Homo sapiens: one gene and its partner. The protein of the gene in region 2 purifies or fractionates together with the protein of the main gene of each other region. This does not show direct contact. Each region holds a gene or a part of one and is shown on either strand. Other genes may lie near its edges. The genes, in order: SPSB4 and PCDHA6.

Evidence for each region.
Region 1: the proteins of PCDHA6 (region 2) and SPSB4 purify together in Homo sapiens (co-immunoprecipitation; one large-scale study listed by IntAct). This does not show direct contact.

Annotation. Positions count from the first base shown.
Region 1 is NC_000003.12:141,057,796-141,061,613, reverse strand, and holds part of SPSB4 (SPRY domain-containing SOCS box protein 4), read right to left. Parts: intron 1-3,818. UniProt on the Homo sapiens protein: Substrate recognition component of a SCF-like ECS (Elongin BC-CUL2/5-SOCS-box protein) E3 ubiquitin-protein ligase complex which mediates the ubiquitination and subsequent proteasomal degradation of target proteins.
Region 2 is NC_000005.10:140,834,223-140,838,040, forward strand, and holds part of PCDHA6 (protocadherin alpha-6 isoform 1 precursor), read left to right. Parts: intron 1-46; exon of another isoform or gene 47-161; coding exon of another isoform or gene 162-2,531; exon of another isoform or gene 2,532-2,951; intron 2,952-3,818. Other genes in the region: PCDHA7 (protocadherin alpha-7 isoform 1 precursor), read left to right, coding at 162-2,516. UniProt on the Homo sapiens protein: Potential calcium-dependent cell-adhesion protein. May be involved in the establishment and maintenance of specific neuronal connections in the brain.

The DNA of each region.
Region 1 (3,818 bases), on a different chromosome or scaffold from region 2:
AAAATAAGTTAATAATAATGTATCAATACTGGTTCATTAGTTGTGATAAATGTGCCATACTAATGTAAGATGCTAATAATTGGGGAAACTAGGGTGATAAATGGAGTGAGCATATGGGACCTCTCTGTACTATCTGTTTAGTTTTTCTTTAAATCTAAAACTATTCTGAAGAAATAAAGCTCATTAATTAGAAAAGGTTAAATAAATGTCTAAATTTTAGAGAATACAAAAAAAGGACAAAAACTAGAATTCACCTCTTTCTCCTATCTCATTAACCAGATATAAACATTGTCAGCTTTTGGAGGAATTTTGCTTTATTCTCTCTTTTTTTTTGGTCTATAAATTATAATGAATTTTCTTTTTAAAAATTGGTATAATGGGCCTTTATTTAGATTATTTCACCTAAAAATTATGTAATTTGCATTTTCACATATCACTAAATATACTTTAAATGCATAAGTAACTAAATTTTTAAAAACACATAAAACATAAACCATATAATCATTTAATGGGGGAGAAGACAGAAATATGTAAAACAAGAAATGAAAATGGGAAATAACAAAACGGTGTAGCTGAAAGCACTTGTAAAAGAAGTTAGACTTGTTTTAACATAAGAAAAAATTTGCAACACAAATTACCAACAAATATATGTCAAACTCCTACAAATGAATACAAGTACAAAATATGAAAAGATATCAACAGTTTACACAAAAACAAATGGTTCCTTTGAAAAGATACTCAATGTATACTGAAAAAGAAATGAGTTAGAACTCCATTGAAATGCCATTTTTGTCTATCAGCTTATTAAAGGTCAAAAAAATGGATAACGCATGCTTGGAGAATGTGTGGAACAGAAGACAGACTCATACATTGCTAAAGTGGATATAAACTGGTTTAGCCTCGGCAAATGGCAAATTAACACCATCTTTCAGAATTGCAAATATACAGACCCTTTGACCTAGCAATTCTACTTCCAGCATTTATTCAGATATGTTCTCAAATGCACAAAACTACCTATGTACACAGCACATGCATACATACTGCATACATACGCAGCACTCTTTGCAATAGCAGCCCGGGCTCAGAGAGGTTGCATAACTTGCATAACCTGGGGTCACACAGCCAGGAAGTGGCAGGACTGGGATCAACCCCAGAGTTACCATATGACAAGCCTGTGCTCTTACTTCTTCCTCCATGTTGTTTAGAATAATGCCCTCTCCACAGCAATGACTGTAACCAGCTCTGTGTGGCCCACACAGAAAATTTCTAAGGGAAACTGCTTTATCCTTGCACACAACCATGCCAACTGTGGAGTTGCTGTTGCTGAAAAGACACTTAAACATGTTTGAAAGCAACAGCCAAACAGCAGCCCCAGGGAAGACCTCTTACTAGTACTTGGCTTGGCCCATACTGGGTCATTGAGGGCCCAGTGCTCTCCTTTGCAATCATAGTCTCAAAGTCTCTGTCCCTACTAGAGGCAGGCAGAGATCCTGAAGAGTGCTCACACTGTGGTGTGACAAGGTGGGCAAGTAAATAGACAGCCCCTTTGCTGCTCCCCCAGTACAGGGCGCACAGCAGAGTGCTCATGTCCATGAATGATAAGCCGTTAAGGGAAACTAGCAGCTGGGCAATCTAATGAAGGACAGGAGACCTAGATGTGAATCCCCACCTGTCTGTTGGACCCTAGGCCAGAACTTAATCTCTCTGAGACTGGTTGGAAGTGCTGCTAACTATGTGCTAACCTCACCTGCTTTTGCAAGTATCAGAGCAGACACCTGTAAAGTCTGGCACATCACAGGGCTTCCAGTAAGTGGTGAGTGCTCTTTTAAATTGTGGATGTGTTCCAACATTGCCATTTCACCACTTGAATGTGCCTGGCTATGAACTGATTGTGTCCTCCCCAAATTCACATGTTGAAGCCTAATATAGGTTGGATATTTGTCCCTGCTCAAATCTCATGTTGAGTTGTAATCCTCAGTGCTGGAGGTGAGGCCTGGTGGGAGCTGTCTGGGTCATGGGGGTGAGTCTGTCATGGCTTGGTGCTGTCTTAGGGATAGTGACTGAGTTCTGGAGAGATATCTGCTCATTTAAAAGTGTGTGACACCTCCCCACCCCCGCCTCTTGCTCTTGTTTTCACCATGTGACATGCCTTCTCCTCCTTCACCTTCTGCCATGACTGTAAGCTTCCTGAGGCCTCTCTAGAAGCCAAGCAGATGCCAGCACCGTGCTTCCTGTAAAGCCTGCAGAACCGTGAGCCAACTAAACTTCTTTTCATTATAAATTACTCAGTCTTAGGTATTTCTTTATAGCAATGCAAAAATGGCCTAACACAAAGCCCCAGTGTGATAGTATTTGGAGGTGGAGCCTTTGAGAGATAATTAGTCCATGAGGGTGAGCTCCACCTCCTCTAGGAAGCCTGCCCTGATCCAGTAGGCCTCCTGGGGCCTGCCCTGTACCTCTGTCCACCCTTGAGCCAGCCAGGGGGACATCTTTCAGGCCTTACTGATCTGCTTTTTTCTACCTTGAGGGCATTCCTCTGATGGCAGGAAACTTTCACCAGCACTTCTGTGCCCCCAGCCACTGCACTACTCCCTCCATGCAAGACACAAGCCTGGTACTTTGAACATGGGGCAGAACACACATATGGACTGTGGAGAGGTTGTGCTGGGCTTCAGGGAGGGCTCATGCTCTGCTGTTTTTCAGAGGATGAAGCAGAGAAAGGGCCAGGGCTAAAGTCAGGATATGGGGACATGAAGCCCAGTAATGCCACTATCATAGTTGGACTCTCACTCCTGAGCAGCTGACTCTTGGCTGTATCCAGTCTACTCCTTTATTAGCTACTGCTTTGCATCCTTCCCTGCTTCCAACCCTCATTTATTCGTTCAAAAAATGCTTAGTGAACACAGTGCCAGGCACTGTGCAGCTGAGAGCAAGGGACACAGCAGTGGCCAAGTCGGGCTCATCCCTGCCTTCTCTCTCCAGCCAGAGGGAGTGGGCACTTAGCACATTTCTCCTCTCCTCATCTCCACTACAGCATGCAGCACTGGGCCAGGCACATGGGACATACAACAGGATCCATCTTCCTGACAGGAATACCATCATCTCTCAACCCAGTAAGCAGCCAGCATCCTGAAGAACGCCAAAGGATGCCTCCGTCACTTTTCCCCAAAACCAAACTTAATTTCCTACGTCATGCTTGGATGGGGATGCTTAATGACATTATCCAGAAGGATCTGCTCTGGGGCTTCAATCATGGCTGAGCAAGAAAACAAAAACTCTAATTTGCTAATTGCCTTTCCCAGGACCCTAGCAGATGTTCCTACCCGACAGGGAAATGAGGAGACATGAAGTGGCAATGCCACACTGTTTAAGGAACCTCATTAGTTTGAAAAATATGATGCACAGTCTTCAGAGGCCTGGGACCCAAAATCACAGCCACAGAGGCCTGTCTAGCTGAGCTCAATAGGCACGGGGTCTGCAAGAAGACATGACTGCTGTGGGGATTGGTAGTGACTGCGTGAAATGCCCTTCTCTCTGTGTGGCCTCTGGCTTTGGACTTGCTGGAGCCAGAGGTGGGGGCAAGTCTCCTTCTTTCATCTAGCCAGCAGTAATGATGCCTGCCCTGGGGATCTCAGGCTGCTGAAAAGCATAAGACTCAACCACTTTCCCTTAGGGAGACAGCCTACACCAAAGGGGTCAGACTCCACGAGAGATCTGAATAATGACAAAGACTGTAAAAAGAAATCCAGTTAGATACCACTGGAATTCCTTTATAGACTGCATATTACTTTCAAATATATACTACTGCACTTGTAAAA
Region 2 (3,818 bases):
AGGAAGTCATTCCTTTTCGCACTGGAAAGACGCTCCACTCTCTTTCACTCTTTGGATGCACAACAATGGCCACACATCGAGATTGAAATGAAGGGATAAAAACATTCCTATAAATTCGAAGGCAAGTTTTGCTGACTAGAAAAACAAGCCAATAATTTGAAATGGTGTGCCCGAATGGATACGACCCAGGGGGCCGACATCTACTGCTGTTTATTATAATTCTAGCAGCTTGGGAGGCAGGGAGAGGCCAGCTCCACTACTCGGTCCCCGAGGAGGCTAAACATGGCAACTTCGTGGGCCGCATCGCGCAGGACCTGGGGCTGGAGCTGGCGGAGCTGGTGCCGCGCCTGTTCCGGGCGGTGTGCAAATTCCGTGGGGATCTTCTGGAGGTAAATCTGCAGAATGGCATTTTGTTTGTGAATTCTCGGATCGACCGCGAGGAGCTGTGCGGGCGGAGCGCGGAGTGCAGCATCCACCTGGAGGTGATCGTGGAAAGGCCGCTGCAGGTTTTCCATGTGGACGTGGAGGTGAAGGACATTAACGACAACCCTCCGGTGTTCCCAGCGACACAAAGGAATCTGTTCATCGCGGAATCCAGGCCGCTTGACTCTCGGTTTCCACTAGAGGGCGCGTCCGATGCAGATATCGGGGAGAACGCCCTGCTCACTTACAGACTGAGCCCCAATGAGTATTTCTTCCTGGACGTGCCAACCAGCAACCAGCAGGTAAAACCTCTTGGACTTGTATTACGGAAACTTTTAGACAGAGAAGAAACTCCGGAGCTTCATTTATTGCTCACGGCCACCGATGGAGGCAAACCCGAGCTGACTGGCACCGTTCAATTACTCATCACGGTACTGGACAACAATGACAATGCCCCAGTGTTCGACAGAACCCTGTATACGGTGAAATTACCAGAAAACGTTTCTATCGGAACGCTGGTGATTCACCCCAATGCCTCAGATTTAGACGAAGGCTTGAATGGGGATATTATTTACTCCTTCTCCAGTGATGTTTCTCCAGATATAAAATCCAAGTTCCACATGGACCCCTTAAGTGGGGCAATCACAGTGATAGGACATATGGATTTTGAAGAAAGTAGAGCACACAAGATCCCAGTCGAGGCTGTCGATAAAGGCTTCCCACCCCTGGCTGGTCATTGTACAGTTCTTGTGGAAGTTGTGGATGTAAATGACAATGCTCCACAGTTGACTCTCACTTCCCTGTCTCTCCCTATTCCAGAGGACGCCCAACCAGGTACCGTCATCACATTGATTAGCGTGTTTGACCGAGATTTTGGAGTCAACGGACAGGTTACCTGCTCCCTGACGCCCCGCGTTCCCTTCAAGTTGGTGTCCACCTTCAAGAATTACTATTCATTGGTGCTGGACAGCGCTCTGGACCGCGAGAGTGTGTCCGCCTATGAGCTGGTGGTTACCGCGCGGGACGGGGGCTCGCCTTCTCTGTGGGCCACTGCTAGCGTGTCCGTGGAGGTGGCCGACGTGAACGACAACGCCCCGGCGTTCGCGCAGCCCGAGTATACGGTGTTCGTGAAGGAGAACAACCCGCCGGGCTGCCACATCTTCACTGTGTCGGCGGGGGACGCGGACGCGCAGAAGAACGCGCTGGTGTCCTACTCGCTGGTGGAGCTGCGGGTGGGCGAGCGCGCGCTGTCGAGCTACGTGTCAGTGCACGCGGAGAGCGGCAAGGTGTACGCGCTGCAGCCGTTGGACCACGAGGAGCTGGAGCTGTTGCAGTTCCAGGTGAGCGCGCGCGATGCGGGCGTGCCGCCTCTGGGCAGCAACGTGACGCTGCAGGTGTTCGTGCTGGACGAGAACGACAACGCGCCGGCACTGCTGGCGCCTCGGGTGGGTGGCACTGGTGGCGCAGTGAGAGAGCTTGTGCCGCGGTCTGTGGGCGCGGGCCATGTGGTGGCGAAGGTACGTGCAGTTGACGCTGACTCAGGCTACAACGCGTGGCTTTCGTATGAGTTGCAACCGGTGGCGGCCGGTGCGAGCATCCCGTTCCGCGTGGGGCTGTACACTGGTGAGATCAGCACGACACGAGCCCTAGATGAGACGGACGCACCGCGCCACCGCCTTCTGGTGCTTGTGAAGGACCACGGGGAGCCCTCGCTGACAGCCACAGCCACCGTGCTGGTGTCGCTGGTGGAAAGCGGCCAGGCACCAAAGGCGTCGTCGCGGGCATCGTTGGGCATTGCAGGCCCAGAGACCGAGCTGGTGGATGTCAACGTGTACCTGATCATCGCCATCTGCGCGGTGTCCAGTCTGTTGGTGCTTACCCTGCTGCTGTACACGGCGTTGCGGTGCTCAGCGCCGTCCTCTGAGGGCGCATGTAGTTTGGTAAAGCCCACTCTGGTGTGCTCCAGCGCGGTGGGGAGCTGGTCATTCTCCCAGCAGAGGCGGCAGAGGGTGTGCTCTGGGGAGGGCCCACCCAAGACAGACCTCATGGCCTTCAGTCCCAGCCTTCCTCAGGGTCCATCCTCTACAGACAATGTGAGTCATAAATAATCTTGTTTCCAACAATTTTAAAACAATTAGTTCAATTGGTCTCCTTAAATTTTCTTTCATAATTTCTTTTTTAGTTGATAGCTTTATGTATAATTATTATTTTTTAATGTTATGCTGTATTTGCACTAATTATTTGGAAGTACGTTTAATATACACTTTTGTTTTGGGATGCGTAATACTATAGATCAAAATCTATGGTTTATGTTGGCTACTCTCCATTTTTGGAGGAGGACTTTGCTAACTGGAGCAATGGATTCACCTTTCTTCTATAGTGTATTTACAAAATCAAATATTTACATTTCCATATTTTGATAATCAATACCTATAAATGTTATAGTAAACAAATTTAATATATATGTTACCTAATATTTTATTCTATGTATTGTCCTCATTTTATAAAATATAGCTGTGTCAAAATCATCTGTTCAATTTTGCCTTTTTATCTTTAGTCTAGAACTTGAATTTTAAGCATTTCTTTTACATCTATTTATCTTCTTTTTATCATATTTGTGTAGCACTGACTTCTTTTTAACTTACTTTGTTGAGATGTATTTGCCATGTTCATGAAGAATTAATATGAACAATTTAAAATAGTTTAAATGGCAGTTTAATAGTATTTTTTATTTTGTTCCTTGTTTGTATAAGAAATATATTCACATTCAAAATTTCAAAGAGTGAAATCTAGTACGTAGTAAAAAATCTCCTTGCCTCCTCAAACCCCAAACCATTTACTTTACCTTTCTGAATTTCTGAAGCAGTTTACTTTTTTTGTATATTCCCAAGATTATTATTGCCAAATTATATAAATATATTTACAATCACCAAATTGTAAATCGCCAATATATATATTTTATAATTTGCCCCTTCCTTCCTTCCTTCCTTTCTTTCTTTCTTTCTTCCTTTTTCTTTCATTCTTTTTCTTTTTTCTTTCTTCTTTCAAGACACGCTCTCACTCCATCACCCAGGCTGCTGAAATGCAGTGGTGGGATTATAGCCCACTGCAACCTGAAAGTCCTGGGCTCACAGGATCCTCCCATCTCAGCCTCTGGAGTAGCTGGGAATACAGTTTGCATGTCATTGTGCCTGGCTAATTTTATTTTATTTTTGTAGAGACAGGGTGGAGTCTTGTTTCCCAGGCTGGTCTTGAACTCCTGGCTTCAAGCGATCCTCCTACCTTGGCCTCCCAAAGTATTGGGATTACAGACACGAACAACCACACCCAGCCTGCCTTTCATCTTTCCTTTTTTTTAAAAAAAGAAGTGATTACAGTAGAAACCTACCTTTCTG